2 separate regions of the Homo sapiens genome follow, and region 1 is linked to region 2. The links come from fine-mapping of genetic effects on gene expression. A gene starts in region 2. The other region holds a variant in brackets. All regions are shown on one strand. Distances are between the middles of the regions. Region 1 overlaps FBXO8 (F-box protein 8). Region 2 holds the start of CEP44 (centrosomal protein 44).

What was found.
Region 1: its variant is fine-mapped to the expression of CEP44 in sun-exposed skin (GTEx, PIP 0.97).

Annotation. Positions count from the first base shown.
Region 1 is chr4:174,243,305-174,259,449 of GRCh38, reverse strand. The region is part of intron 3 of FBXO8 (F-box protein 8); the gene reads left to right. Among named protein-coding and RNA genes, the nearest start is that of LINC02268, 31 kb to the right of the region's middle. The variant A/G (reference allele first, on the strand shown) is at 6,026.
Region 2 is chr4:174,274,017-174,290,161 of GRCh38, reverse strand. It overlaps CEP44 (centrosomal protein 44), which reads right to left and starts at 6,251. Exons shown (of 12, transcript NM_001040157.3): 1 at 6,219-6,251. It overlaps FBXO8 (F-box protein 8), which reads left to right and starts at 6,495. Exons shown (of 6, transcript NM_012180.3): 1 at 6,495-6,752. RefSeq lists a silencer at 6,019-6,286 and an enhancer at 6,051-6,300.

The DNA.
Region 1 (16,145 bases), 31 kb after region 2:
CTGACCTGATTACAATATTAGTACATTATAAGTAGAGAGCACAAAAATTTGATAATAAGAACACAGAGTGTGTTCATCAGATTTTATCTGCAGCAGTTTTTTTCTGTTTATTGTTTTTCCTTAGTAGTGATGTTACTTTTATCAAAGATAATCATTGAGGACATTGTTCTATTTTCTGACAAATCAAAACGTTGTCTTCAAATAATGCCTTTAACAATATAATTCCATGTTGACATAGGAACTATTTATAGATTGTTATAAAATTGAATAATTTTGTATTAATTATTTAATTCTTTCTTAACATAACATGTAAGCATGATCAAAATGTGAAAACAACTTTTTCACTGATTTTTTTTTTCTCTATTCTTATTTTACTATGTCATGGAAAAGTTCAGATTTTCAGAAATGTTTAAATACTTACAGATTTATTCTTAGAAATCTAAGTGAAAATTATACAGCACTCAGAACTACTACTTTTGGGTGCATTATTTTTTGTGGAAAAATTTAATCTGCAGCATTATTTTAATTTACCTAATTTTCAAAAACAACTTTTTTTCATTTGTTGTCGAGGTATTAATGACAGTTCAAATCATACAGCCAAGTATTTTCTAAAGTTATCTTAACTTTGTTATAATTAGGGAAATGTTTCTCCTATGTAAAATATTTGAGTCTTAAACAAAAATACCAATTTTATACGTATGCATATAAAAATACCAATAATATCTTTTTCTAATCAATTGATTTTTACTTATGTATGGTTTATTTTTTGTTAAATTTTTATGGTACATAAATTTAAAATAAAATAAAATGCCATTGCAAAGGTTTACTGATACACTTCTTACCAGTTAAGTCATATCTCCAGAAATATAACAAAGTATATATATTGTAAAGCCAGGTATAATATTTAAATTCAGATATTTCTTTTCTTTCATCACTATTTAAAGAGGTATTACTGTCAATGAATAGCAAACTGATACCTTAATGAAATTAGAATGATTTATACGAAGTTCAAATTACACATTTACCAATATAATATTGCTTTTTAGAATCAAATGATCATTCTTCAGAAAGGCAAATAAATGGATAAACTATTTATCATAAATTTAAATGTTGTTATTGTGCCTTTATTGCACATTTTTTCTCATGCCTTTTATTATAAAATATACTTGTTTTCACCTTGTTTTTGGTCAAATCCCAGTTACTGTCCATGTAAACATATGGCAACATAAGAACGTCACTTTTTTTATCCTGCACTGTGGCATACCTGCTCTTACAAGAGATTCTGCTGCACTTACATATTCAAATGATGGCACAGTTATAGAGACTTTATTATTCTTAATTCTTTATTTAGACTTAAACATTATTTGTTGCTAATTAAAACAGTTCATATGATGAACTTTATAATAAAATATATATTTTTCAGGCCAGGCATAGTGGCTCATGTCTGTAATCCCAGCACTCCAGGAGTCTGAGGCAGGCGGACCACTTGAGCCCAAGAGTTTGAGACCAGCCTGGACAACATAGGGAGGTCCTGTCTCCACAAAAAATTTTTAAAAAATTAGCTAGGCATTGTGGTGCATTCTTGTGGTCCCAGCTACTCCGGAGGCTGAGGTAGGAGGACCACTTGAGCCCCAGAGGTCAAGGGCGCAGTAAGTTGTGAGAGTGAGACTCTGTCTCAATGATAATAATCATAATCATAATAAAGATATGTAGCCCCAGAGGTCAAGAGTGCAATAAGCTGTGAGAGTGAGACCCTGTCTCAATGATCTTAATAATAGTCACAATAAAGATATATATTTTGCATCAGTCTGTTGAGGTAATTGAATGATGATTGCTGGAGTAAAACTGAGGCAGAATGGTACAGTGCTGTACTGTACAGTACATAAGAATCAGGAGAGGCAGCTGTTTTAAGCCCCAGTCTTATTATGCCCATTTAATCAAGGCATGCTGGCTCCTGTCATGAATTATTCTGATGTTGAGTAAAACTGTCATCTTCAATTCATATCACTTTCAAATGTTACATTATAAGAGAAATGTAACCTGGTAAGTACTAAGTTGTAGATTGTTACAGAGTCAGAAAAGTTGGATGTAATTGCTGATATTGATTATGGTAAGTAGTCTTTCCTTGCTAAAGGAATGCCAATTTTTAAACAAATTATAAAGCAATCATTTTTACACAAAGATGAAAATACACATGGGTCCTCATATGCTAAAATGTTATATGTATAGGTTTAAATATCTAATTTGGAAAAGCTAGACATATAAATAGGTTTTCATCCTTGCAGCTACCAATATCAAACTATACAGTTCTTGTTAGTACCTCCTCTAGGGTGTTTGGAGAGGGGGCAGAGAAAAGAGCTCAAATTCAAGTTGTTTTTATATCTGACATAATTTTTTAAAATTATAAGTCAAATGTTTGTTAAGGGAGGGGATTTAAGTTATTAATTAAAATAAGATTTTTAGATCTTCAGATTTTACTTATCTATCCTACCTTCCATTGTTATTGAGAGTTGGCTGTATTTTCTTTTTTTTTTACTCCCTGGCCTGATTTAAAGATACTCTGGAACATTCCAGAGGCACTGAATTTATCATTCTAAAAGGGCCATGTAGTACTCCCAGGAGGCATAGAGCTGAGCCACTCAATGTGTCTTGAGGTTCCAAAATTCTGATTCTATGCTTTTATGAACATGTAATTTAGCAGATGTTACCTAATAGCAAAAGAAAATGCTATCTTTACCAGAATGCACTTAGGAAATATATAGGAAAAAAAGGACATTGCAATACACTTAATAAGGTCAGAGAAATGAGGGGAAGTAGTTCAGTGACTATATTCTGTACTTTCTTTCATTGACTAACATAAATAATGTTAACTTGGCTAATTGTTTACCAAGTCAAGTATTCAAAATTGAAATCATGTAAGTGAAAGATCCATCCTAATAAATGTTCTTATATAGCACTTATCTGTATGAGTCATACTTTAGCCAGACTTTAGAATGACTCTTGCCAAGTTTTTTGAGTGCTCAAAATTAGGCAGTACTTTTTGGAGACTGTATTTTGTTTTCTTTTTCCCCACTCACTGGAGCACTGTCATCAGATATATTATTTTAGGTTCATTTAACTCTGAGCAGTAAATTAGTTTTGATGATACGTTTAAATATGTGATGCTTTTTGCAAGTACCTGAGATAAGATGTATATAATTGCTTAGTATTGTAAAAAGTCTACTTTTTCATAATTTCCAGTATTGTACTTAACATTTTGATAGCAAACATCATTAAAATATTATAAAAATAAGAATACTTACAGCCACAGGGAACAAGATTCTCCAAAGGACACCGTTCATGTCACGGATATGGGTAACCAAGCTCCACAGCAGCTGCTGGCAGTGGCTCATGGGGTGGGGGAGAACATCTGCACAGTTTGTGGTACGATAATCTGGCACGCTGTTGTACTATGCATGACATTGTGATCTCAGCTGTATGTAACGTCTTGATCTTGTGCATGAGCTTGTGTACTTTGTGGCAGGTGGCCACATTCTAGTAAAGGAATGTGCTGAAAACCATCTGTTTACATTAAGTTGTATTTTCCCTGCATGTACAAGTTGTGTGTGTCAATTTTATTCCACTAGCAGTAGTATAATGAAGTAATTTTATTTAACAACCAGTAAACTATATTACTTGTGCTCCAATGTATATTAAAACACTTTCTTGACGTAGTTATTTTTAAATTTAGGATCTGAAAAATTGGTAGTGAACATGGTTTAACTTTAATATAGGCTTATTTTTGTTTGTGTAATTGTGTTTTTAAACAGTTTTTGTTTTAAATATCCTCATTGGGGTCAGATAACAAGTTTTTTTTTTTAATGACTATGTAAGCACATTTTTCTGGTATTTATGCAGAAATATCCACATGTGTATAATTTTATACATTTTACTAAATAATCTATTATAAAAATATTTTAAATTTGACCTATCCACATGTTTGAGGTAGAAATGAATATGCAACTTATTTTCAAGATAACATGTTATTTTTGTTATTGGACCAGCTAAAGTATAAACAGGAAATTTGTAGTTCTCCATTATAGAAAGCATTTCAGGAATTTACATTCAGTTCTTAAAAATAGTATCTCAGATATATGTTAATGACTTTTTGCTCCAGTATTCAACAACAAAATCGTCATTACCATTACTTCATAGCGTAGCAACAGTGGTGAAAAATAACTTTAACTTCTATTCCTAGGGAATGAAAACCCTCATGGGCATTATTAGAATGTACCAATAAACATTTCCCAAGTGCATTCCTTGGGAATACACAGTTAAAAAGGAATTCTTAAGTCTAATTTGAACATGATAGATTATGATTAGTTGGCTTATTTACAGCCTAACTTTTCAAAGCCGTTAATACTTTGATGTACATCGTGACTATCTAACAAGGGGGATGTTATATGCAATATATATCTAATTTTGTTTGACGTGGTGTTCTTTTTTGGGAGGAGGAAGGTAAAAACATTCCAGGGAATACATTTTGAAATAACCTAGTATAGATTATCTGTAATCCTACTGTGTATAAATAAATATTTTAGAATGGTTGAAATACCCTGTTGTTCACTTGCAGTTATCTGATGTAATCTTCTCTCTTATCAAAGTCTGTGGGTCTGTAATTGTTTTCTTTCCTTTGGTCTGATAGTACTTACTACAAAACAAACAAACAAACAAACCCTGAGAGTTGAATTGAGTCTTGACAGACTGAGAGATTTTTCCATTTTATATTTTGATTACCATCTGATTTGGAAAGGGAAGTATTACTTTGGACAGTAAGGGTAAGGCAATAAACCTGAAAGCAATATTGAATTCAAATAACTGCCTGTACATATTGATAAATATATCTGTGTCAAATAATTTGTAACTAATAGACCATTCATCATTATTTACTTGGTATCGCATTCTCTGTACTAACTCTTTTAAATCTTAGTACCTCCTGCAACACAGAAGTATTCCTAATGAAAGCTGACAGGCCACTAAGATACTTTTTACTTTAGAAAATATACTACCTTTTGAGGTTTTATCCTTAGTTCTATACATCTAGAAATTTGGCTTTATCTTTCTACTGAAAGTGAATCTCTCAGGAATAAACTTACAGGTAGTAGAATGTGAACCAAGTTGACAGTAAGACACACATACTTCAAACAATGCCAGATAGCATAAAGAAAGAGAAAGATAAACTCGAAATTCTAATTCTTGGCTGTGATATAAACTAAGATCTAGCTAGGAAGAATTGAGTTCTCAGCACCCTTCATTATGCTGCTCGACTCAGCATGTTCCACATTTTATGACTGGCTTCTTGCAGTACCCACTTCTCCCTGTATGTATCAGCTAAGATGTTTTTGGCTGCAAGGAACAGAGAACCTAAACTGTGACTTAAACCCTTTACATTTGTTTACTTCAAAAGAGTCCTGGATGCAGGTATCCCAGTTACTTTAGTGAGATGATGATCTCTTGATGGACCTGAGTGTGTTGACTTTCACCCTCTCTTGATAGCAAGATGCTACCACAACTCAAAATATCACTTCCCCCATAATAGTGTCCCCAGTACAAAGAAAGAGAGGCAGAAAAAGAAGCTTTCTCCTCATATTCCTTATACTTATTAGGGAGAAAAATCTTTTTGAGAAGCCTTTGGCGTACTTCTACTCATTTCTTATAGAACATAATTGAATCACACGAGCACCCCTAGAGCACTAGCGAATAGAATAGAAAGATTACATGATTGGCTTAGACTTATAATTCAACAACTGCAGCTAGGATGCTAGAAGAAATGAAAAACAGGGAAATGGCCTTTGTTAAGGCATCCAAGCATCTGTAACGCCATTTTAACTAGTGATACACTTAAAACATGTGATTCAGCCTTCCTTGTTTCTGGTCTCTGCTGGGTTAGAGGCCTTAGTATCCAAAGGAGGAACATTGGCACCTGTGGCACAACAATTTGGTTGGTAGCTGACCCTACCTTCTTGCCAGTTTAGGTCTTCCTGCT[A/G]CTAAGCAAACATATCAAAATTTTAAAAGGGAGGAAGACGGGATAGGAGGGGAGGTGGTTATGCTGTGATTGAAGTGGTTAAGCCTGATAACCAGAGGGAAATACTACTACACAGTGTGGCAAAAGAAAAGGATATAGGTGGAACTCAAGAGATGTCTTGGGGTTCCTTCTAGTGGCACTATATCCTATGATAAAAGTAATTTTTTAAAAATCACACTGGGCCTACATGGCCAAGGCTTATAACTCACCATTTAGACTCCTCACTAGGGAAAGCACCTCAACCAGTTGTGTGGCTGGCTCATTCCTAGGGTCCAGAGTTGAATATGGATTCTTTATTCCAAGCTCCATTCACCTTGAAGGATGCTTTTATGGCATCCGTGTAATCTATCTCTTGACTCATGAGGTTGGAAAATATGTGTATAGAGAAAGATTTTTTAGATTTTTTATTTTTCTTGAGACAGAGGCTCACTCTGTTGCCCAGGCTGGAGTGCAGTGGTGCAGTCTTGGCTCACTGCAATCACCACCTCCCGGGCTCAGGTAATTCTTGTGCCTCAGCCTCTGGAGTAGCTGGGATTACAGGTGCATGCCACCACACCTGGCTAATATTTTTTTTAGTAGAGACAGGTTTGCCTCAAGTGACCCACCTGCCTCGGCCTCCCAAAGTGCTGGAATTACAGGAATGAGTCATCATACCTAGCCTATTTTTTAGGTTTAAAAAAGAGACACAAAGAGGTAGTATTGTCTGTGCGTGTGTGTGTGTGTGTGTGTGTGCATGCACTCACATGCACAAGTACATGTGTCATGTACACCTCTAGGCATTGGTATGTGAGAATATAATGGCATGACCATGTGCAGCCATCTGGTAGCCATGAGGGGTATTAGTAACCCTACCAAGAATAGCAGACTGGAAAGAAAGAATTGGGTCTGTGATGCTATCTGTGAGCCCAACAACCTGGAGCCATATTAGTTTGGAACTTCTTGTTATACAAGGTAATTTTATTTTTGAAGTAAATGTATCCCTTTATTTTGAACTAGGTCTCCTGTTGTTTATAACCAAAAACATCTTGATGTATTATTGCTATTATTATTATCCAGACTCTTAGGAGTTTGAGATGTAATCCTCAATGCAAATTTTTAAAAATAAACATTGCTAACTGGGTACAGTCAGTGGCTCACACCTGTCATCCTAGCAATTTGGGAGACCAAGGTGGGTGGATAACTTGAGCTCAGGAGTTTGAGACCAGCCCAGGCAACATGGTAAAACCCTGTCTCTACAAAAAATACAGAAATTAACCGGGTATGATAGCATGTGTCTGGAGTCGCAGCTACTTAGGGGGCTGAGGTGGGAGGATCACTTGAGTCCAGGAAGTTGAGGCTTCAGTGAGCCATGATCATGCCACTGCACTCCAGCCTGAGTGACAAAGCAAGACCCTGTTTCATAAATAAACATTGCTAATTCTCAGTAGCAGATCAATTTATCTCCAAATTTGCTGAAGGGAATTTAATCAGGGCAAAAGAAGCTAGATGACAGTGAGAGGAGTCCCTCACCAAATATGGCTTAAGTAGCTCCCCCCTCTGTAAGAACTGTTTACCCATAGGAGCTAAAATGCTGGAGTTTATGGCAGGCTCCTTCTCCTTGATCAGCATTAGAGTCAAAGTGAAAAATTATGCCTCTCAGACACTAAATAGCCTCTTCCTCTGCCTAGACAACTTAATACCTTCAAGCGACTAGCTACAATTAGTCAAATGGTGCTAAACTGGAGGTGATTTTCTTTTTTTTGAGAGTAATATGGTATGTGTGGATATGCATGTGTGTATGTGTGTATGTATCCATCTCTTTTTAATCTAATCCATCAGGTGATTTTATGGTTAAGAAGGCAGCTTTACCCTTTGCCTTTTAGGACAACTTTAGTTTACACCTTACCCTAACCATACTCTATCCCAGCCACCCTCCTTTTCCCTTTTCTCCCAGAGTCACTCCAACATGTGGTGTAGAATCAGTTCCCAGAGGAGGTTTGTGGACTCGGAATAAACCTTTTAGAAACTTGAAAGAAAGACAAATTTCCGAGGCCCTCTTCTAATCTTTATCTGGTTGAAAAAGAGATTCAGGCCCTAGAATATTCCATAGTTTATTCATCAATCAAACCACCTGATGTATTTTGCTCTTGTTTTATTCAGTGTGCTATGGGAACTACTAATTTGCTGTATCATTGAGTGTGAATTGTCTAGGGTAAAAACTGAAATTAGTGGAAAATGTCTTCATCCTAGGATACATTTTTAAATTTTTAATATTAAAATATGATATGCTACAATGAACAATTTTTTATTTGAATTTTACTTTTGTTAGCAATTTAAGTAATTGTAACTAGAGACTTTACAGTGGTACATTGAGCTTTTTAAGTGCATTTTAATGAAAAATCTGTTTGCTTTTTATTTTCTCATCATACACTACCTGACCCTCTTGATACCTCCCAAATATTTTTCCTTATCTATTGTGATCACAGTTTCAGTGAAACTTGATATTACTTCTAGATTTAAGTTCTCAGCTTTAATGTCCAAGGTGTCTGCCTCTACATGTCTTTCATGAATTTAGCAATTGTTACCAGTGTCACAGTAGATGTCACTTCAAAATATGAGTATTGTGTCAGAAACCCAAAGGATAATATTTCCTCAATTCTTGGATGTCATCAATTGTAAGACATCCATCAACTTACTTTCAGCTTTTCAAATATGGGAGTATGAAGGAAACACTACCTTAAGTGCATTTTTTAAAACCAGCTAACTGTAGTGTACATTTATCCATAAAACTATATAACGTTTTCTTCTTTTATATCATAAAGTTTTTAGAGAGATGCCTTCTTTATAACAAAATTCCTAAGATTTCTGTAAATCTCTTTTGGTTGTTAGCAGTTAAATATAGCATCAAAGTGATATGCTACTTTGGATTATTTGGATTGGTGACTCTGACCTTTGAGAATCTATAACTTGAGGTATTTCAAAGTGTGCTGGGGTTTTATCTGCCGCTAATATTTGATCCAGCTTATACATTTTATGGAAGGGGGTTGTTTTTGTATTTTTCCCTTGGTTGAATTATATAATCCTTGGAAGTTTACAGCATGTCTTGAAAGTCAGCTGGAAGCTTTGTACACGTAGATTCAAACATTCATTCAACAAATATTTATTAAGTATCTCTACCACTTACAATTTATGTAATGTTGGCTCTGAGCAAGTTATTTAACCTCTGTGCTTCAGTTTCCCCATCTGTAAAATGGGGACAGTAATAATACTTATAACAGTGTTCTTGTGAAGATTAAATGAAATAAGACATGTTAAACATGCCTCTAAGTGTTCACCAAACTGTAACTCTATGTTTATACTAAAGGTACAACTACAACAACTTAAAATACCAAGAACCAGGCACTGTTCTAGGCCTTGACGTTCTTCCTCTTCTTGAACTTTTGGATTCTAGTAGATAACTATATGACACCTGACGAATGGTCCTTCATGAAGTATGTATTGGTCACATCAATATCTCCTAGCTTTAAATGATACCCTTTGTCTTTAATTGTATTTTCTGACATGTATATGCAATCTTTTGCATATACAGTAACATTTTGTTTCAGTAGTGCTGCTGAGTTTAATCTTTTTGACATTTAAGCAATAATTAGGGGTCCAGAGTTATGTTAAAATTAAAATATGTGTCTTGGCTACAATGTTGGCAGGATGAACAGATACTTACGTTACATGATTAAGTATATACATGTGCTAGCAGTGAAACTACCATGTAAATCCCAACTTGCTTGTCTACTAGTAGACTTTTTTTAAAAATGTTGTTTACTTTAAAACTGTTTCAGAGCTGTTAAAATATATTTATAAATGTACATATTAAGATCTAGGTAATATGATAAAACTAGTATTTATGGGTTAGTCATTTAAACAGTTGTATATATGCACATTGCAAATCCAGTATTTGTATGTGATTCTTATAAAGCAAGAATTCTAAATTAGCTAGCATCATTGTTAAATGTGTCACTTTCTCATTAGTTTCAATTATTAATCATAACCTAATAGAGATTTATCTCCATATTTTGATTAGAATGCTTTCTTTTTCTAATATAGAGACAGGTTAGAGATAGAGGGGGCTTTTCCAAGAAGCGTGACTCAACTAGCAGCAACTTTTTTGATAATAATTACAATAATGATTGTTACATTTAATTGATAGTAGTAATTTATTATTTAGGAAATACTTTCTTAGCTATCATATTGATCCATCCCAGTCACTAATGTGGTTCTTTTGGGGGATATTAGAATTCACAGATGTTCTTTTTCTGTTTGAGGCTATTAGAACGAATTAATAGGGGCTTTTAATTATTTAAAACTTTAGAAAATTAGGTTCATGTTATTTTGTTTGCCATTGCTTTTTCTCTCTTGAAAAATAAGCAGGAAGACCTGTCCTATACCTCCTCTGTGTTTTCCCTGGACTCCATTGGAGGGAATTGTTATTTTTATTTAGATTTTCCTTAAACCATCACTCTTTTATGTGGGATTTTCTGTTGACATCTTTTAACTGCAGATAATTTCAGGTGTATATATCTCTGTCCTTAGCAGTTCCTCAGCATTCTGCTCTTTAATATGTTGAAAAGTCTTCCATAAATCATTCTAGCTGAAATCCTTGCCAATTCAAACAATGTTTATACATAAACTGGTTTAATATTATACGAAAGGTAAATGTAAAATCAAAACTCTTCATTATCCTCCAGACAAAATATGGTATTATGTTTCATAGCTAACTGAGAAAACTGGCTACAGGATACTGGCACTCTCTCTTCACAGCTGTTAATTCTCCCACTTCAGTGTGGACAGTGTGTGCTCTCTGTTCTTGCTCTGGAAGAAAGGAGACTGAAATCTGCTATTTAGACTTAAAACTGACATCAAAACTATCTTTACATTTCTTTCCCAATTTTCACTGCCCCCTTTCCTCTTAGTTCTGTGTAACACAGAGCCTTCTGGTGAATAGCCTAGTTATGGGTTCCTCAGTGAGAGGAAAACTTAGTACTCTTATAATCTTTTTATCTAGGACAACTTTTAAAATCTGGGCATAGATTTTACTTTAGTCTTTGAATCTAGTGACTGTATTAGGAATAACTATTGTTATATTTATAGGCAGCTTAATAAAAGCAATGTGTGACATTTCTGTTATGTATGTGCTCAAGGTCAGTGTTAAACATAGAAGGTCATGGAAAATTACAGAAAGCAGAAAACATTACAAAATTTAGTGGGTAGAAAGAAATGAAATGACAGGATAAAAACATAGACACCTAGTCTTAAACATACTAATTAAGAAATCTTCTGCGCTTATTTCACCGCAGCCAAAAAGCAAGGTGTTGATTTTTTATTTGCATAATAAATATCCTCAGATAAATATTGTCAATTATTCACATTCTGTGAGGCCCACCCTCCCTTAACTATAGAGCACATGTTCTCTGCTTAAATAGGGAGAATGAGAACTTCTGGACTGATAAAAATTAATAGATTTTACATTTACCTTAGCAATTCTTCAAACACTGTAGAAAAGAAGAAATAGTATCAGAGCAGTCATCTTAACCATTGCTGCTGCTATTTGCAAACAAAACAATGGGGATGTTCCCATTTGACCTGCAGATGTGTCAATTATTTTTACTATTAATAACGTATATTGTGTCACTTAATTTTTACATTATCTTCAGTTTGAAAATGTTACATTTCAGTTTAAGTTTCATTGTGCTCAAATGTATACTTGAAAAATAATATATTCAGTTAGTTTCACTGTGGTTAAAATGTATACTTGAAAAATAATATATTGGTTATCATGTTGAAAGAAAAGTTAGAAATCTAGATTGAGCTATATTGTTTAAGTATTACTATTTTTAAAGTCTTCAAAATGTTTTTTTAAAAGAAAATTAAATGCAGTATCCAATTGGCTTTCTATTATATAATGGTCTAAGGGCAGTTTGATGACCTGAAAAGTAGTGGCCATTGTACTAGATTTTACATTTTATACAAGGACGAAATTGAACAAAACTTGCTAAATCAAATTTTTTTCTAAATTTCTTTACTATGTTGTTCTTTAGGAAAAAAATTAAAGGTACTCCCTAGTATGTGACAGTTTTGTTTTATTAGTGACACCAATAAAACAAAACAAAACATCATGTAACTTTTATTGATACCAACTGTTACACAATGTGTGTGCCAGGTGTCTGTGGCAGTAGACAGTACTTTCAGTACCAATTATCAGTACTTTTTCATTTGGCTTTGCATGTCTAATTTTCTAGAATTCACTCTGTTCCCAAATATATATTTACTGATTCTGAACATATGTATGGTAGATTTTGCTTAACCTTAACAAGAGATGGGCTGAATTCACATTAACTTCACCTAGATTCTCACTGCTGCTTGGCACTCCTTTAGTTTATTCCTAGTGAATTCCCAGTCATATCCAGTCATATCCTGCATCGTTGTTGATAGAAATCTTCACCACTTTGCCCAAGAATCCAAATCAGCCCTCTCTTTTCCAATGCTCCCCAGATAGACCTAAGAAAGAAACCAACATGTTCTTTGTTTTCTGCTTTTCACTTTCTTACTGTAGCTGTCTCTGAGCCGGTGCTACTGTGCTGTCCCCCAGGCTAATCATTATAAACTCCAGCAGTATTTTCAGACCTTTCCCCTGCTCTCTTTTTATCGGCTTTGCTGCCCCTGCAGCAAAATCTCCCGCACATCAGTCTTTTCCTGTCTGCATTGACCTCTCTTTTTGTCTTCTAACATGAGTAGGTCATAATTATCTTGAAAAAAAAATACTTTCTCTTTTTTCCCTTTAATTTTGCCATTTTTTCCTCCTTTGTACTAATATATTTTTCAAGTGAGTGGACAATACTCAGTTTCCTTACCTTGAGCTCATTCTTTTGTTTTCTTCTTGGATTTCAGCCTCTGCTACAGTGTGGAAAGAGACCTCTTGAAAGTCACTTCTTTCCTCCCAGTCACCAAACTCAGTGCCCTCTTCCTATTCTAGTATCCTTCAGCTATTTGAAAGAAAAAGAAAACTAGCTGTGTTCCTTTTGCTATGCACTTAGCCCACTGAGATTTTTACTGATTAGGAAACTGAGGCTCAGGAAGATTGTGTAGATTGTTTATGTTCATATCATCATTAAGTTGCAGAACCATGGCTTGGTCCCTGTCCTAAAAATGGTGCTCTTTCCATCATACTGCATAATTGCACTAGACACCCTGTTCTTTAACTCGAAGGCTCTTGGCTTCTGGAACATTATTCTATCATTCTCTTCATTACTCCCTTACTAATCCTTCTTATCCAAGATCCTGAATCTATATCTTCAACCCTCACTTTTAAAATATATCCTATTACATTACCAACTGCCTACTATGCCTTTCTAGTTATATCTGTCATCACCTAAAATTCAACATGTCTAAAAGCTAACTCATCACTGTTTTCTTCAAATCAACACCCTCTTTGACTTTTTTTGACCTGTCCATCATTTTTCTGTCAGTCATTTCCCTCTTCATCTAAGCCAGAACCATCAGCTGTCTTTCACTTTTCACTGTCACATGGCTTGATAGTCAGCATATTTATCAAGTTATTTTCATATATGTAACATATATGTAACATATACAGTTGTATAGCCCGCTATCTATTTATTTTTATTTTTTAAGTGAGTGCTCCGCTGAATAGCCCACTATCTAATTTTTCTTTCATTATTTATCTTTATATTGCTGCCAAATTCACATTATAGCCCATTGCTTCATCAGGTTTAAAAGCCTTCAGAGGCTTCCAGTTAGATTTAGGATAGAGAATAAACTTCTTACCCTAAAATTCAGCACTATTTCTGTCACTGTCATAGTCTGGTTGTACATTTACTCTCCAACCCAAAATATTTCCCCTGCCTTCCTAAAAATAGTCTTTAAAAATTATATATTACTTTTGCTCATATAATACAGTATTAACTGGAACATTCTTCTCCAGTGTTCCCCTCATTCAGAGCTGTCTAAACCCCTTAAATTCCTTGTCTAAACCCCTTACAATACTTCAGTCTAATCTCTAGCAGGAAACCTTATCCAAACGTCCTATCCCATAGTGACTTTTCCTTTCATTGAACTCTGAAACACTTACTTTTCATAAGCATTCATTTAGGTTTTCTTCTACTGCCATGTATTATTGATGTACCTTGGCACGTGTGTATTCTAGATGTTTATGTATGTGTCTCATTGCCACAGATAAACTTTAAATTTTCTTAGGGCAAAACTCTGTGTTACACTACTCAGTGTCTATCACTGAATACCTTGCATATCACACCTTGTGTTTAATATGTTTCAAAAATAAAATGTGGACAATTTTAATGTATTGCTTCATGTTTTAAAAAATATTTTAAAGCAGATGCATATATGTAAATATGCACAGATATACATATATCTATTTTACAAGCTAGTCTTATAGGCATTCATCTTTCTATCTAAATGTAAAGTGAATTGGATACTTTTTTAAAAAAATCAAATGACTAGGAAATTTTTAATTAGTAGCATGGACATTATTTACCAGTTTATTTTCCCAAGAAATATGAGGCCTAATATCTATTTTAATAAGAGGAATTTTATTTACCCCACTGTAACTATCCTTTAAAACTATTTTTTAAAAATATATTTTGGCCAGTAGTTTCCTTTCACCTGACAGGAGCTGATCTCTATGCTTGGAGGTATCTGAGATTAATCATGATGGTTTCAGCCCATGATAGTACTAACACCATCATGATTCATCTCAGAGTTATCTGACAAAACTATCTTAGAATTCTCCCCACATGCAAATAAAAAGGAACTACATTATGACTGCAACAATTTAGATAATTCTAAAAGTTGAACAGAGTTGCAAATGGGAGTTAAAATGTGTATAGATTAAACGGTCAAATTTAAGTAGTTCTGAGTTTGAAGCTTAATCTTATTTTGAAAATGTAAGAACAACAACAACAACAACAAAATTGAATCAAGCAAAGACAAATGATTGGTCTTTGAACAGCTCAACTAAAGTTACAAGCATTCCCTTCCTTATGTGGTACTAATCTGTCTGCCTATAATTGAGATTTCCTGACTTTACATCTATACTCATCTAGGATAAGGATTTGTAACCTGCAGTCCTTAGATGGAACTCTATTTCTGTTTTAAAAAATGTGTATGTGCATTATTCTGGGAAGAAGTTCTGTGACTTTCCTAGTACTCAAAAGGGTCCATAGCCCCCCAAAAGAGCTTAATATCTTCACTACAACCACACACATCTTTTCCTTTTTCCTTGTGACACAGTCTTTTAGATATCCTAAAGTCTTAATCTTTTCTTCTTTCCTAAGTATATCTTCTTCTCTGGCCTAATACTCCTATGTCCCTCCGCTCTTTCTTACATAACATGAATTCTACAGCCTTCAACGATCTCACCAGGTCTTGATTTCCTTTATCCAGATAAGTCCTAATTTGTCAGTATGCCTTATAAAATGTGACACCCAAAATTGGAAACTTTTATAGTCAATTTTGTAGACTATACTGAGCTACAACCTTCCTTCTTTAGAATACTATATATATATATATCTAGACTAATGATTTCCTTTGCATGTGAGACACTGCACAGATGTCCATGCACATACACACTGCTCAGAGTTCTAGTCCTGACTAGTCACTGATATGCTATGTGGTCTAGGAGTTTCTCTGTACCATTCTTCTAAAATTTTATTTTTAAAAATGTTTATACCACTTACTAAACAAATATGTAGTTATTCAACAGACCTCATGCTGTGGTATTTTTTTGTATTTAATTGTACGTTGGTGCGAAAGTGATTGCGGTTTTTTGACATTACTTTTAATGGCAAAAACCGCAATCACTTTCGCACCAACCTAATACATAAGAAGATAAGAATTTGGGTGACTTACAGCTTGCTTATTAGAGACAGTTATAATCTGTTCTCATGTCTTTTTGTATTTGTTATTCCTTTACCATTCACTTTGGTAGCCCTTCTAAAGTAACCTTCCTCTCCAAAGGAATCCCAAGCTTGAACCTGATGCCTCTTTTCCTCATAAAACCAATAGAGTTGGCTTA
Region 2 (16,145 bases):
AAGAAAGAGGCAGGACACAGTGGCTCACGCCTATAATCCTAGCACTTTTGGGGGCTGAGGCAGGCGGGTCACTAGGTCAAGAGATTGAGACCATCCTGGCTAACATGGTGAAACCCCATCTCTACAAAAAATACAAAAATTAGCTGAGCATGGTGGTGCGTGGCTCTAGTCCCACCTACTTGGGACTCCCACCTACTCGGGAGGCTGAGGCAGGAGAATCACTTGAACCCGGGAGGCGGAGGTTGCAGTAAGCCAAGATCATCACGCCACTGCACTCCAGCCTGGTGACAGAGCAAGACTCTGTCTCAAAGAAAAAAAAAAAAAGGTCTCAATAAAACAACCTAACTTTACACCTCAAGGAACTAGAAAAAGAACAAACTAAATCCAAAATTAGCAGAAGGAAGAAAATAATAAAGATTAGATTAGAAATAAATGAAATAGAAAATTGAAAAACAATTTTAAAAATTGACAAAACTAAAAGTTCCTCTTTTGAAAAGACAAACTAAATCAACAAATCCTTGGCTAGACTTTAAAAATAGAAGACTCAAACAAAATCAGAAATGAAAGAGGACACAATTGATCCCACAGATATAAAAAGTATCATAAGGGACTATTATGAACAATTATATGCCATCAAATTGGACAATCTAAAAAAAAATGGGTAAATTCCTAGAAAAATATAACTTACCAAGACTGAATCAAGAAGAAATAGAATGCTTGAATAGACAAATAACAAAAAAGGAGATTGATGGAATAATCAAAAAATTCCCAACAAAGAAAAGCCAAGAGCCAGATACATTCTAGCAAACATTTAAAGAAAAATTAATACAAAACCTTATTAAACATATCTAAAAAAAAAAAAAAAAGAAGAGGGAACACTTCCAAAGTCATTCTGAGGCCTGCATCACCCTGATACCAAAGCCAGACAAATACACTACAAGAAAACTACAGTCTAATACATTTGATGAATATAGACGTAAAAATCCTCAATGAAATGTTAGCAAACCAAACACAACAGCACATTAAAAGAATCATATACCATGACCAAGTAGGATTTTTCATTGTGATGCAAGGATGGTTCAACATATGACAACCAACCAATGTAATATACTGCATTAATAGAATGAAGGATAAAACTCACATGGGCATCTGCACAGATGCAGAAAAAGCACTTGACAAAATTCGATACTCTTTTGTGATAAAAACTCCCAATAAACTAGGTATGGAAGAACCTTATAGCAAATTAGGTAAAGGAAAAACAAAATAAAGTCCATTTATGAGAAGCCCACAGCTAAGATACTTAAAGATAAAAAACTGAAAGCTTTCCCCATAAGATGAGGAACAAGGCAAGGTTGCCTACTTTAGCCTCTCCTATTCAGCGTAGTATTTTAAGTCCTAGCCAGAATAACTAGGTAAGAAAAATAAATTAAAAACATCCAAATAAAAAGAGAAGAGGTACAATATCTGTTTGCAGATGACATGATCTTAGATGTAGAAAACCTTAGGGACCCCAACAAAAATGTGAGAATAAACAAATTTGCCTTTAAAAAAGAAGGAAATCCTGCCATTTGCAACAACATGGATGAACCTGAAGGACATTATGCTAAGTGAAATAAGCTAAACACAAAAAGACAAATACTGTATTATCTCAATGTATGTGAAATCTAAAATAGTCAAATACATGCAAGCAGAGAATAGAATGGTGGTTGTAAGGGAACATGGGGAGAACAAAATGGGAAGCTGTTGTTCAAAGGGTACAAAGTTTCAGTTAGGCAAAATAAATAAGATCTGCAGGTACAACCCAGTGTCTGTGATTAGCAATATTGTATTCTTAAAATTTTGCTAAGAAGTTAGATCTAATGTTAAGTGCTCTTATCACAAAACGTGAAAAAAAGATGAGTAGAAGGAAACTTTTCAAGGTGATGGCATTGATTTCTTGTAGTAATAATGGTTGGATGGTTTCACAATATCTACTTATCTCCAAACAGAAACTGTATACATTAAATGTCTATAGCTTTCTGTATGTCAATCATACCGCAATAAACAGGTTAAAAAATGAAGCAGCACCAGATCCCTGTACACACACCTCTAAAAATAGTCCCTTTGTATATAAAGCACCCCAAATTTTCTCCTTCTGAGTGTGTTATCTACTTAATTAAGGGCCTGGACTACAAAATCCAAGTTTTCACTTTTCACCCAAAGTTTTCCATTCTCACACACAGAATTTTCTCGTTCAGTTAGCAGATGCAAGAAGAGAATTTCAGATATTAGCTTTAAATACTACATTCTTGTCTATACCTGGTATTACTAGCTCTACCTAATTCATTTTCTTTCTTACCATGAAATTATAGAAACAAAAAGGTTACTGCAAAACACTTATAAACATATTGTCAGCATGAAATAATTATAATTATCCTATAATAAATTGTACCTTTTGAACAATTTTGGTCACTTTTTGATCTTCGTGTATTAATAAGTTAATACATGTAAATCATAACCAGAAGGGAAAATCAAAACATTCCACTTACCAAGTAATGATGAAAAAGAGAATGTGTGTGATTTAGTTAATTTAAAATATTATAGAAAGCAACAAATAACAGAAATGGTATCTGGGATAAAGTTCCTGGACCTGGATAAGGATGTTTGGTGATATCTCAAGCTGTTCAACACCTTTGCACATGCCATTTCTTCAAGCTTGAAGAGATACAGAGCAACTCCTTCCCTCTCCCATTCTCCATCTGGCTAATACCCCTCGGCATCCTGCTTAAATGTCACCACCTCAAATAAGTCTTAGATCCCAAACTAATTAATCCCCCTCATTAATTTTCTCTAATAGACCCAGTTCTTTTCCTTCTTGGTACTTATCATAATAAAGAACCAAAATCTGTGCCAAGGGTCCAAAATAGCACTCTACCTGAAAAGCAACACTTAATCCTTGTCATTTCTCAGCTCTATTTCAGAATGAGCTGGGTTACTACCTGGGGTCCCATAACGACCTATATCCCAATGGCCTAGAAATAGAAGGAATACACCGATTCCCCCTCTTGATGCTGATTCTTCACTTTAATAAGCCACCACCATTGTCAGTCAAGATGTTTTGCACTGTCATCGGTCCCAAACTCCTGCTGGTTAGCCAGCTGTCTACTTCCAAGAAGAAAAGGTGAACACAGAAAAAAAGGCAAGAAATTCAAAATATCTATGCTTTTTACAGAAAGAGTAAATGGTACAATTATTTTGGAAAACTTACTGGTGATACCTACTAAAAGCTGACATACATGGGGCCTATGAAACAGGAATATGACTCTGAAGAATGTACACAACAGAAAAACACATACGTGAACCAAAAGATTTGAACGAACTGAGACTTTAAACAAAATGATTCATTTTTTAAAAACTGCCCCAAAAGTAATAGCATGGAATTTATTTCTAAATGACTAATTTTCTTGCATGGAGTGGGACTTTCATTAGATTATCAAAGGAGATTTTTCCCAAAGAAGAGTCATAAATAGGTATATAAACGATTAAGAACCTTTGCTGGAAGGAGGTAAGTTTCTGAACTATAAAAGTCTAGTCAGCCAGTAACGTGAAACTCAATAACTTACATAAAAACATCTACCACAACTGTCCATGGACACTTCATAGAAGAAAAGTAATACATAACAATACCTTGAGTAATGAACCCTTTGAGAATGAAGCTCCTTTAAAATGAAGTTATCACATTAAAATGAAGTCATTATATTAAAATGAAAACAGAACAATTCATAAATCAGGTGAAGCTGGGTTAGTGTGATCTTTTCCTCCAATTCGCATTACCCAGCTGTCCAGGATACAAATCATCCCTTTACACACCGTTTCTCTATCTTTAAATAAGGAAAGGTAAGAAGGTCACCGATTTACAAAATCCTAAATTTAGTAAGCTTCCTACTTTAAGCCCCTCGCCACTCATTTCCACAGCCATTTCCCCAGGGTAGAGCAACTGCTCCCTCTTTATGAACCTACCTTTCTGTTCCTAGTCTCCTTTATCAACATGGTAGGCAACAGCTTATTGAATATACTTTATAGACTTGTGCATGCACATTTTAGTCACTATTTTTCAGCCAATAAATTACTTCAACTAAACATTTACATTTCTAGACAGAGATAATTTTAGGTACTGTCAAATGGGAGATAACTAGAAAAAGAGAAAGTCATCCTGAAATCACATTATACAAAACACTGGCCAAGAAGGTAAACCCTATTTAATATCCTTTAGACTGACTGGGGGTAGATGGACACACGGAAGCCTAAAAGGGATTTCCCAAGATAAGCCTTTACTTTCCTGAAAAACATGAAGTGAGGACTACTCTGGCTTTAACCGCAAAAAATGTATTCTTGGATTTTGCCACTGGCCAATATAGTAGGTCTGAGCTTCTTTCGGGTTCCAGACCCATCTATCGTAACACAATTCTTCTAGGGATACCTTCTTCCCAGTAACTTTAATGTAAATTCTATGTCTTTCCAGACTTCCTTTAGTCCTTCCAGATGTATATTCCATTTTCCCAGTGCAAGTAATTCTGTTTTACGTAACACTTTATGATATCTTCTCACCTTTCCTTTTTCTGACATTTTGGAAAACATTTCAGTGTCTCTTACATGATTTCTACCTCTGATAATGGAATTTCTGACAACAAAGTTATGTCTCTCTTCAGTACCAGTGAATAAATATTTTGAAGAGTAATACAAGCAGAGCTCGTGAACGAGGTAAGTGATAGGAGACAGAAAAATAAAGGGATTTAAAATTGGGATTATCACAGAATAAAATTACAGCTACTGCTCTACATTCTCACAAAGGGCTTTACTAAGTCTACTATAAAATTCAAAAGCCTTAAAAACAAGACATTAAAAGAAGCCAATCTATTACTTATGTACATTTTAACACCTTACTTTCATTAATGAAAAATACTTTTAAAAATTTAACATTTTCAACTTATAGCACTGATCAAAGGCAAACTAAGGAAAAAAGGAGATACCACTCAGCTTGCAGCATAGATTCAATAATAAAGAAGCTCTCAATATTCCTTTCTAGCTTCCTTCCTTGTCTACAAGTCAGATCTGCGCAATTGAACTTGTGGGAGAGGTTGTGAAAATAGTGTACTCTAGCAGTTTAGGATTTTCAACATCGCTCAATCTCATTGCTGTTAGAGGTCATTAAAACAATGCCTCCCAATAGAATGTCACTGGACCAGAGTGATTTTTGTTTAGAATGAAGCAACTACACTGACTCTAATAACAGTCAATGGCTAAGAGTTTGTGACATAGCACATAATGCTCGATATTATCTAAAAACACGTATCAAAAACAAAAAAGTAAAGATGAGAAAAACAGTTTATGAAACTGCAAAAGATATTAGGGAAATACTTCTCTAAGAGATAGGAGAAAGGTCTGAGAAAGGCAAAGCATCGAGAAAGCTGGGCGGGAGTGGGGAGGAGTAAGGGACAAGTAAAGAGTTCAACGGGACTGCTGTGTTCACACATAAAATTAAAAGGTCTGCAGATAATTCGGGAAAAAAACAGTCTAGCATGGCCATAATTCCAGAGTAAAAGAGAATAACAACTTCAAGATTAACTTGTTACAGTGAGGGAAAAATCTGTAGCCTTCAATAAAGGTGGAGAAATATTTGAAAAGCTGGGGAAATGCCAACAAGGAAAACACGAACTGCTGTCCTGTCTTCCTTATAGTCAGGAGCCGTTTGTATCCTCACCCCAGAGGATCCAATAGGAATCAGTAAGCCTATAACTTTCCAACCCTAAGTCACAACCTAATTCTGATAGGATGAGCTACCACGATACTTCCCACTTCGTTGTGACTAAAAGCATATACTAGTTGGGTATATAAGCAAGGCTCCCCTCCCGCCATTTGATTTAAAAGAATGAAAAGGCGGATCTGGTCATTCGTCTCCGCCCGGGGTCTCTGTAAGGACGGCGGAGAGAGGCGACCTCCGCCCAATACCAGGCGCAGCCTTGCCGTCTCCTCGGGGCTCACCAAGCAGCCACCAGCAAAGAAGCCGGTTTCAAAGGCCCAGCACGACAGGGAGAGGAAAACGGAGCATATGCAACCATACACAGTCACCAGAGTCCAGCCTCCCGCAACCAGTCGCTACAGCCAGGCGCCTGCGCCCAGAAGCGCTTCTCGCGCCGACCGTTTGTATTTGGAATTGTGGGTTCCTGCCCGCCACGCACCACCGCAAGACCTTCAAAGCTGGGAGCTTCTCTGTGCTCCAGGATTCCTCGCTGCCGATTCCACACCGCGTTCAAGACTCCTGTGAAGAGCGACTCCGCTGAGAGCCTCCTCAATGGCCAGTCCACTTCTAACTTGCAGCTGAGAAGTTTTTCTGATCTTGATGGTCAGAGTGGCTCGTGCTACGAAGTGAGAAACAAGGAATCTATAGCGAATCGTAAACAACAGAAATAAAAATGCGTCTCCGTTAAGAGTCGGAGCCTAACGTCACTTCCGGCAACAATAGGAAACGTCAAAATTGGGATAGTCGGCAGTTCTGGCCCCTGCAGCTGGAGGTACCCTGAGTTCTGAGGGTCGTAGTGCTGTTTCTGGTATTCTCATCGCGGTCACCTCTACCGGTGTGGACAAGTAAAGTTTGAATCAGCTTCTCCATGGCCTGGGCACCAGTTCCCGGCTGAGCCATTTTCCTTTTGGCTAAAAGTCCCCGCCCAGAGGCCAATTCGTCGCGGCGGCGGTGGAGATCGCAGGTCGCTCAGGTACAGGAGTCAACCTAGATATTTTAGATCTCTTGTCTCTTTTCCCTGTTCACCTTCACTTTTCTCGAAAATAAAGACAACCAGTGCTTGCCAGTTGGCCGAAACTGGCCGACCAGCAAGAGTTTGCGACCAATGACAGTGCGAAGCATCTTGAGTGACAGTAGTGGTGGCTCATTAAAGTGAGGAATCACTGTCAGGAGGCGGAACTGGGTGTGTTCCTTCTGTTTCTAGGCCATTGGGGTGTAGTTCGGTTTAGGACTCCAAGTAGTAACCCAGCGTCATTGTGAAATAAACCTGAGAAATGACAAGGGTTACTTTCTTCAGGTCCAAGTGTTGGTTTTCGGGTCGAGTGTTATTTTGGTTCCTAGACAGTTTTTGGTTCTTTACCACTTTCCAGTAATATGAATGCAAACACAAGTATAGTTAAGATCACGATGGATTGCTAGCTGCTACAGTAGTCAAACTTGGGTTATAAAACTTGTCAAACTTGTCTTTTATTTGTTTCTCAGCGACTGGGTTCTAATCTCTTACGTAGAAGGTTCTCAATATTTATTTGGCAAAATCACATAAATGGATCCCAATCCTCAGTCATTTAATTTTTTTAGTTTTATTTTTAGGTTCTGTATGAATTTACTAATAAAATAATTGATTCTACTTGTTTTACAAGTAAAATATTCATTTTCAAGGCTCCTAGGTGTATATCCACAAATGAATATATCATGATTTTTATTACGGTAAAGTGAAGACAATTTATGTTTTCTATTTCAGCTTTCCTCTTCCTTCTTTTAATGTTTGAAGTAATGTATTTCTGAGGTAGGAGCTCTACACACTTCTCAACTCTACCCTTCACGAAAATGATATGTGAAACAGAGTAGGTTTCAGAATAAAGAATGCATAAGTTTTATTATTTTTTTCATATTGGGTCAGAAATTCATCTTTAGCCAATTAACCTGACAATATGTCTGATGAGGTACTTCATTAGTTGTCTATTGCTGGGTAACAAATTACCCCCAAATTTACCCCAGCTTAAAACAACAAATATTATCAGTTTCTGTACATCAGGAATTAGGGTGCAGCGTAACTTCATTTAATAATAAGTTACAGCAAATTAACTAATATTACTTGGGGCCCTTGGATCAATTACTTCCATCCACAAAATATTATAGTAACTTCTAGATAAGCCAAAACATTGATCATAATTTATTACATATGGTCACTTTAATGGGGAATGTTTTGTGTGTTTACTGTTGCTAGGTTAAAAGATATCTTCCTCATTTTACAATATAAAAACATTGAATTACCAAATCTTTAATCACAGTGTGTTGAAATTAGTCATTCAGATTTGTAACTTTATGGTTTATTATTTAACCAACTGCTAATGTACAACTAATTTTTTCCTCATTTTGATTCAGATTTGGAAACTGGCACTATTCCATTGACTGACCCATGATAATGCATCAAAATCATTAATACTAAAGTCTAAGAATTATGCATTTAATTTCTGTTTCTTTTTCTTGAATTATTTTACTTAAATAATTTTTTAAACAATTTAAATGAAATACATCTATTTCTGGAAATTTATGTTCACTATTTCTTTTTCGTTTTGCTCTCATTGTTTTGTTTTTCTGACAAATTTCTTGACTTAGCTCTCTAATAAACTAAAACATTTTTGGCTGACTTGAATAAATTTATATCATATTTGGGGCAAGTATTTTTTTGAGACAGATTTTTATTCTGTTGCCCAGGCTGGAGTGCAGTGGTGCGAACAAGACTCACTGTAGCCTTGACCTCCTAGGTTCAAGCAATTCTCCCTCCCACCTCAGCCTTCAGAGTACCTGGGACCACAGGCACACGCCATCACGTGTGGTTATTTCTTTTAATTTTTTTGTCTGACTGTGCTGCCCAGGCTGGTCTTGAAGTCCTGAGCTCAAGCGATCCTCCTTCCACAGCCTCCCAAGGTTCAGGAATCATAGGTGTGAGCCACTGTGCTGGTGCAAGTACTTTATAGCAATATAAGATAAAAATATTTGTGGTTTGGAGTTTAGGCAACAGCTTTAGGGAGTTTAACCATTTAGTCAGCAGTTCGTGTATTTTTCAAGAATAGATTGCATAGGATTCATAAGCTATTTGAATGAAGGAACCAGATTTTAGCAAGTAAGCCAAGCTTGGAGAGACTCTATATGGAGTAGTGATTTGTGGAAGTCATGAATATAGGGAAAAAAGAGATGGAAAGGACAGATGTTAAATACACACACACGCACGCCATCATCTCTTCTTTTATTTATTAATTTGTTTTTCAGAGTTTTTTCCCTCATTTTATTTTTATGGGATCACAGAATTGTTTCTTCCAATTTTTAAATTGTAGTAAAATATACGTAACATAAAATTTACCATCTTAACCATTCTAAGTGTACAGTTCAATGGTATTAATTACATTGATAATGTTGTGCCACCATCAACACCATCTATCTTCATTACTCTTTTTATCTTGTAAAACTGAAACTCTATACCTATTAAACAATAATTCCCCTTCCCCATTCCTAGGTCCTAGCAATCACCATTCTACCTTTTGTTTCCAGTTTTGGAAACCGGAAGTGTTTGTATTCATATTACTGGAAAGTGGTAAAGAACCAAAACCTCATATAAATGGGCTTATCCAGTATTTGACTTTTTTTGACTGGCTTATTTAACTTGGCATAATGTCCTCAAGGTTCATCTTTGTTGTAGCATATGCCAGAATTTCTCTTCTTTTTAAGGTCACATAACATTCCCTTATATGTGTCAGCCACATTTTGCTTATCCATTCATCTGTTATTGGACACCTGGGTTGCTTCCATGTTTTAGCTGTTGTGAATAATGCTGCTATGAACATGGGTGAACAAATATCTTTTCCAGACCCTGCTTTGAATTCTTGAGGGTATATACCTGAAAGTGGAATTGCTAGATCACATGGTAATTCTGTTTTTAATTTTTTTTTAGGAAGCTCCATATTGTTTCCGCAGAGGCTGTACCATACGTATTACATTCACATTAACAATACATAAGGGTTCCAGTTTCTCCACATCCTTGCCAAGACTTATTTTTTTTTCGATAGTAACTATCTTAATGGGTATAAGGTGGTCCCTCATTGTACTTTTGATTTGTATTTCCCTAATGATTAGTGATGTTGACTGTATTTTCCTGTGCTTATTGGACGTTAGTGTATTTTCTCTGGAAAAATGTCTTTTCAAGTCCTTTACCCATTTTTGAATCATGTTTTTGTTATTGTTGAGTTAAAGGAGTTATCTGTAAATTATAGATATTAGATTTTATCAGATACATGATTTTCAAATATTTTCTCTCATTCGGTGGGTTGCCTTTTTACTCTGTTGATACTGTCTTTTGATGCACAATTTTTTTTTAATTTTCATAATGTTCAGTTGGTCTGTTTCCTCTTTTGTTGCTTGTGCATTTGGAAATCATTGCCAAATTCAGTGCTGTAAGCCTTTTGCCCTGTTGCCCTGTTTTTTCGTCTAAGAGTATTACAGTTTTATGTCTTAGATTTAAGTCTTTGATCCATTTTGAGTTAATTTTCATAGATAATGTTGGGTAAGGTTCCAACCTCATTCTTTTGAATGTGGATATGATTTCTCAGCACCATTTGTTGAAAAGACTGTCCTTTCCCCCATTAAATGATCTTGACACCTAGTCAAAAATCTTTTGACCATATATGTGATGGTTTATTTCTGGATTCTCTGTTCTATTTCATTGGTCTGTATGTCTCTTTTTATGCCAATACCATACTGTTTTGGTTACTGTAGCTTTGTAATAAGTTTTGAAATCAGAAAGTGTCTTCCAGCTTTGTTGTTCTTTTTCAAGTTTGGTTTGACTATTAGAGGTCCCTTGAGATTCCATGTGGATTTTAGAATTTTTTTCTATTAATGCAAAAAACGTCATTATAATTTTGGCAGGAGCTACATTGAATCTATAGATCACTTTGGGTGGTATTGCCATCTTAATAAGTCTTCCAATCTGTAACCACAGGATGTACTTCCATTTATTTGTCTTTCACTTCTTTCAGTAGTGTTTTGTAGCTTTCATTCCAGAAGCCTTTTACCTACTTGGTTAATTCCTAAGTATTTTATTCTTTTTGATGCTGTTGTAGTTGGTATTATTTTCTTAATTTCCTTTTCAGATTGTTTATTGTAAATGTATAGAAATACGACTTATTTCTGTGTCTTGACTTTATGTCTTTCTACTTTGCTGAATGGATTTATTAGTTGTAAGTTTTTGGTAGAATCTTTAGGGTAACTACAAAGGATTTTACTGCTTTCTTTCCAATTTGGTTGTCTTTTACTTTTTTTCTTGTCTAATTACTCTTGGAACCATGGAATTTTATAGCTAAAAAAGACCTTAGGGAACACCAGTTTCAAAACCCTTATTTTACAGGGGAGGAAACTGAGACCTCAAAATTTTAGTGACTTGGCTGATGCTCCCTACTAGCTAAGGAAGGAGACTGAGTCAAACTCATGTTTTCTTTCCATCAGTCTCTTTTCACTATTAAATGTTTTCTCATTTTTCACCTTCCTCCTATTTCTGGCTGCCTTCAATATTCATTTAATTTAATACCTTGTTTTATTTGTATAAAAGCAACTCAGTGAGAATTATGACTTTTGTTTTGGTTTTTAATTCCATAGCACTCATAGCAATGGCCTTTGTGGTTAGTGGGCAGGTGAGTATGTGTATACTGAGAAGGTGGGTTAGGATATGCTACCATGACTACAGCTGATTACAGCCACTTTAAGTAAATAGTGATACAATTAAGTAAGAACCATATAATTAAAAATAATGCTAGTGAGAAGTATGATACATTTATTTTAAAGTTTCAAATAGTTGGACAATGGAGCATTTCTTGAAAAACAAACCACAGAAATTGAATAAGCCTAAAATTCTTAGATTTTTGGTTGCATTTAAATAACACATCTTAATTTTTACATTTATTTAGTTGCCATTTTGGTAACACTTTTTATAGAATAAAATTAACAGGAAAAAAACCTTCAGGGAACAAAGTAATATTGTAAATCTTTTTGAATTAAAAAAAACCAAAACCTGCAAATGGTATGCCTTTTAGTAACAAAAACTGCTCTTGCAGGACCAGATCTTTAAATTTAATGAGTAGGGGCTTTTTATGTGTTCAATGTACCTTGTGACCTCTTAGTACTTAGCTATTTCCCTTTTCTCCTTAGAAAGACCTCCTTGTGGACTTACCCTTCCTTTATTTCTCTACATTTGTTGCCTTTAAATTTTAGGGATGTGATTGGTTATCAGGGTTTTTTTCTTTTTTAAAAAATTTCTCTACGCAGTCTGTTCTAAACTTCTTTGGTGGTCTATTCTTTTGGAAGTGAAGAAATAAATGCTAGGCTCCTGATTTGATTCAAAATGTCTCAGAAAATATTTTCTCATAGACTCTCCCATGTTCTTATGCTATTGAATAATATCACATGATATCCCTTAAAGATTTTTAAAACCTGAAGTAACCAAAAATAGAGTTGCTACTTTTTACTTAAAAGCACTGAAAATTTATAAAAACATATAAGTGGATTTCCTTATCGTTAGAATTTGTATTTTAGAGATAACTATTGTAGCACACATTTTAAACCTTTATCTGAGACAGGACATTTACTTATAAATTCCACTATTTAGACAACTAAGAAATACTGAAGAAAAATGACCATTTATAATGTGTATTTAAATGAGGCTATTCATATGTCAGTCATTACATACCAATGATTTAACACCGTTTGCTCAGTAAAAGCTTTATGGAATTGGTTTGCTTCAAACAAAAGTACTTAAAGCAGAATGCTTTTTTGAGACATCCGGACTCCTTTCTATTCTTGCCATCTTTCCCTGTGTAGATTTTATATGCCCAAATAGTATATAAACCATTCTTCATTACTTATTGTCTGCACAGCATGTGCCATTTGAGTGCTTAGTGCCATGAAATTATAAGCAGTAGTTACCTTTTTCTTAATAAATACTACTTTATTTTGGTGTTTAACTTGTTACAGAGAGATAGTTTGATTAAAGCTGCTTAATATTTTACAGATAGACTTTGTATTAGATACAAAATATTAATAAAACTTGTATTTTAGTCTTTTTAAGAAATAGTCTACTATTTTGAATAGGAAACAAAACATAGTAGTCAAAAATACCATCTCTTAGAAATGTAACGATCTTCTAGAAGTTAAAAAGTATAGAAAACTATTATTGTTCTTATAAATTTTAATAAATGTGTAATTATTTGTAGTTAATCCATAGTTTGTACTGCTTTTAAGTGGAAGCGCTTTTATGCTGTTGTAACAGACTTGGTTAGACTAAAACTGCTACTTTAAAAAAAATACATCCAAAATTATGTCAGAACAATATAGCTGTTTCAGAAACTACATACTGCTTTACCAATTAAAAGATGCTTTTATATACATTCTCTTAGTTAAGGCTCATAGCCACCCTGTAAAATAGATAGGAATGATTTCCCCCATTTTATAGGAAACAAAAGATCAGAACCTTGTTTGAAATACCTAAGGTCACACAGCAAGTTACAGCGTAATTGGAGCTCCACCTTTAAATTCATCCTCCACAGTAGTAGTGTCAAAAAACTTCTACATTACTGTAAAACAGAGATTATAGTATATAGCCCACTTTAGAGATTTCAGTTTTATTTATTTATGCTGAAATTAGCATAATAAAACTGAAAGTGGACAAATTAATTTTTAAAAACCAAAGATCTACACGCCACTGCACTCCAGTCTGTTGACAGAGCGAGACTCCCTCTCAAAAAAACAAAACAAAACAAAATCTAAATATATTTAAATTTTTTTTAAAAATTGGCTCTGTCAGGCAGTCACAGTGGCTCATGCCTGTAATCCTAGCACTCTGGGAGGCCGAGGCAGGCGGATCACATAGTCAGGAGTTCAAGACCAGCCTGGCCAATATAGTGAAACTCCGTCTCTACTAAAAATACAAAAATTAGCCAGGCATGGCGGTGCGCGCCTGTAGTCCCAGCTACTCGGGAGACTGAGGCAGGAGAATCGCTTGAACCCAGGAGGCAGAGGTTGCAGTGAGCCGAGATTGTTCCACTGCACTCCAGCCTGGGCAACAGAGCAAGACTCCAACTCAGAAAAAACAAGTTGGCTCTGTCAAATAAATATTTGGTCAATATGTAATAAAAGTATTACTGTTAATATTGCTATTGTTATTTTAATGGAAACAAGGGCATATAAGAATATAGGAGATTCTAAATAAAATTTACCAATTTTAATGTATTTTAATAAGTAGAAGCATTTTTCTACAGATATTAGAAATATAATATTTGTAGCAATCCAAATTAATTCATATAGCTTATTACTTTGTTTTTAAATAAGTAATTATACCAATTTTCTAATTAATGTATTTTATATGTACATTGTCTTTTTTATTAGACTAAGAGTTACACAAATATCGATCCTTTTTGCATTTGTACCTTACTCTGTTGTTTATATATCCTATGTAAGTGGTCAAAACATCATTTAGGATTTGTGTCTATAAGGATTTGTATTCCTTAATTCCATCTTCTTTTGATCCATATGTATTCAAATTTACCTGAAGTGAGAGATGATTCATAGGTTGTAGATTTTTCACAATTAGTTGGATTCCCAAAATCTAAAATAGTTACTATTTGTGAAATGATGGTAGACTTCCCATGTCTTTGCTCACCCTCTTTAAAGCATTCATTAGAGTTTCTAATTCCTTTTTATAAAACATCTTTATTAAGGTATCATTTACATACAATAAAATTCATTCACTTTAAATGTGCAGTTGCCTATCCTTTTTTAAACTTTTTTTGTTTTTTTCCATCCTTCTATGATTTTTTAAGATAATTGTAGATGTACATGCAGTCTCAAGAAATATAGAGTCATCCCTTGTACACTTTACCTAGTTTCTCTGATTGGTAATAGTTTTGTAACTATAATATACTATCAAAACCAGGATTTTGACATTGATACAATCCCCCATCTTACTCATATTCCCCTAGTTTTATTTTTACTCAGTGTACATATGTGTGTGTATGAAGTTCTGTGCAAGTTCACATATCCAGCACCATAGTCAAGATAGTAAATAGTTGTAACACCACAGGGATCTCTCACACTGTGCTTTTATAACCGTACGCACCTCTCTCCTGGCTAATGATGTTGACCATCTTACCATGTGCTTATTTGCCATTTGTATATCCTCTTTCATGAAACGTGTGTTTATATCTTTTGCCCATTTTTATATTGGATTGTTTGGTTTTTGTTTACTATTGTTTTGAGAGTTGTTTATATATTCTAGATACTCGTCCGTCAGATATGTGGTTTACAAATATTTTCTCTCAATCTGTAGGCTTTCCTTTCATCTTCCAAATATAGACTTTCAAAGAGCAAAAATTTTTTATTTTGATGAATTCGATCAATTTTTACTTTCATGATCATCCTTTTGATATAAGTCTGGGAATTCTTGGCCTAGCCTTAGACCCCAAAGATTTCCTTCTATGTATTTTTCTAAAATTTTTATAGTTTTATGTTTTACGTTTAAGTCTATGGTCCATTTTGAGTTAATTTTTGTAAAAGGTGTAAGGTTTAGGTCAAGGTTCATGTAATTCATTTTTTTTAAAATCAGTGCTTACTAATCGTTTATTCATTCAACAAATATTTTCTGAGCACTTTATATGCCAAGGCACTGTGTTTGATACTGGGTTTATTCATGTAACCTATTGTGTGGAGTCAGTTCCTTATTTTAGTACTTACAGTCATCATTTTGCATTTTACCATGTTAACTGAAACTAGTGCGTGTTGGAACTATGGCCTTGCTATGTAAATGGCATCTCTCCAAATTTCACAGATCCCAAATTAATGAAATTCAGGACCAGGATTATGACTACTCAGGTAATTAATCCACAGTTATCAGGTGTATTTGAAATGAAGGAACCAAAATAATAGTTATCATTTAAAGAGGGCGAGAGGGATGAGTACGAAACTACCTTTTATTGTAAACTACCTACTATGGGTTAAGTTCCATAAATGTTATCCCTACTAAGTCCCATGGAATAAGAATTATTATCCGTTATTTTACTAATGAGAAGAATGAGGATCAGAAATCACAGGCTAATCAGATTCCGTGTTGGGGTTTGATGCTGATCTTTCTTCACATCAAAGCCTGTGTGCTTTCCACAAGAACAGCAGTAGCCTGAAAGAGCAGCTGCAGCTGGGACCAACGATGGAGGTAATAAACAGTGACGGGGTAAAAAGAGATGAGAACCAGTGGTGAAGAAACAGATGGTAAATTGCTTTTGTCATCCATGGGCTCCAGCGGTTCTGGGAATATGGTTTGTGGGTTAAG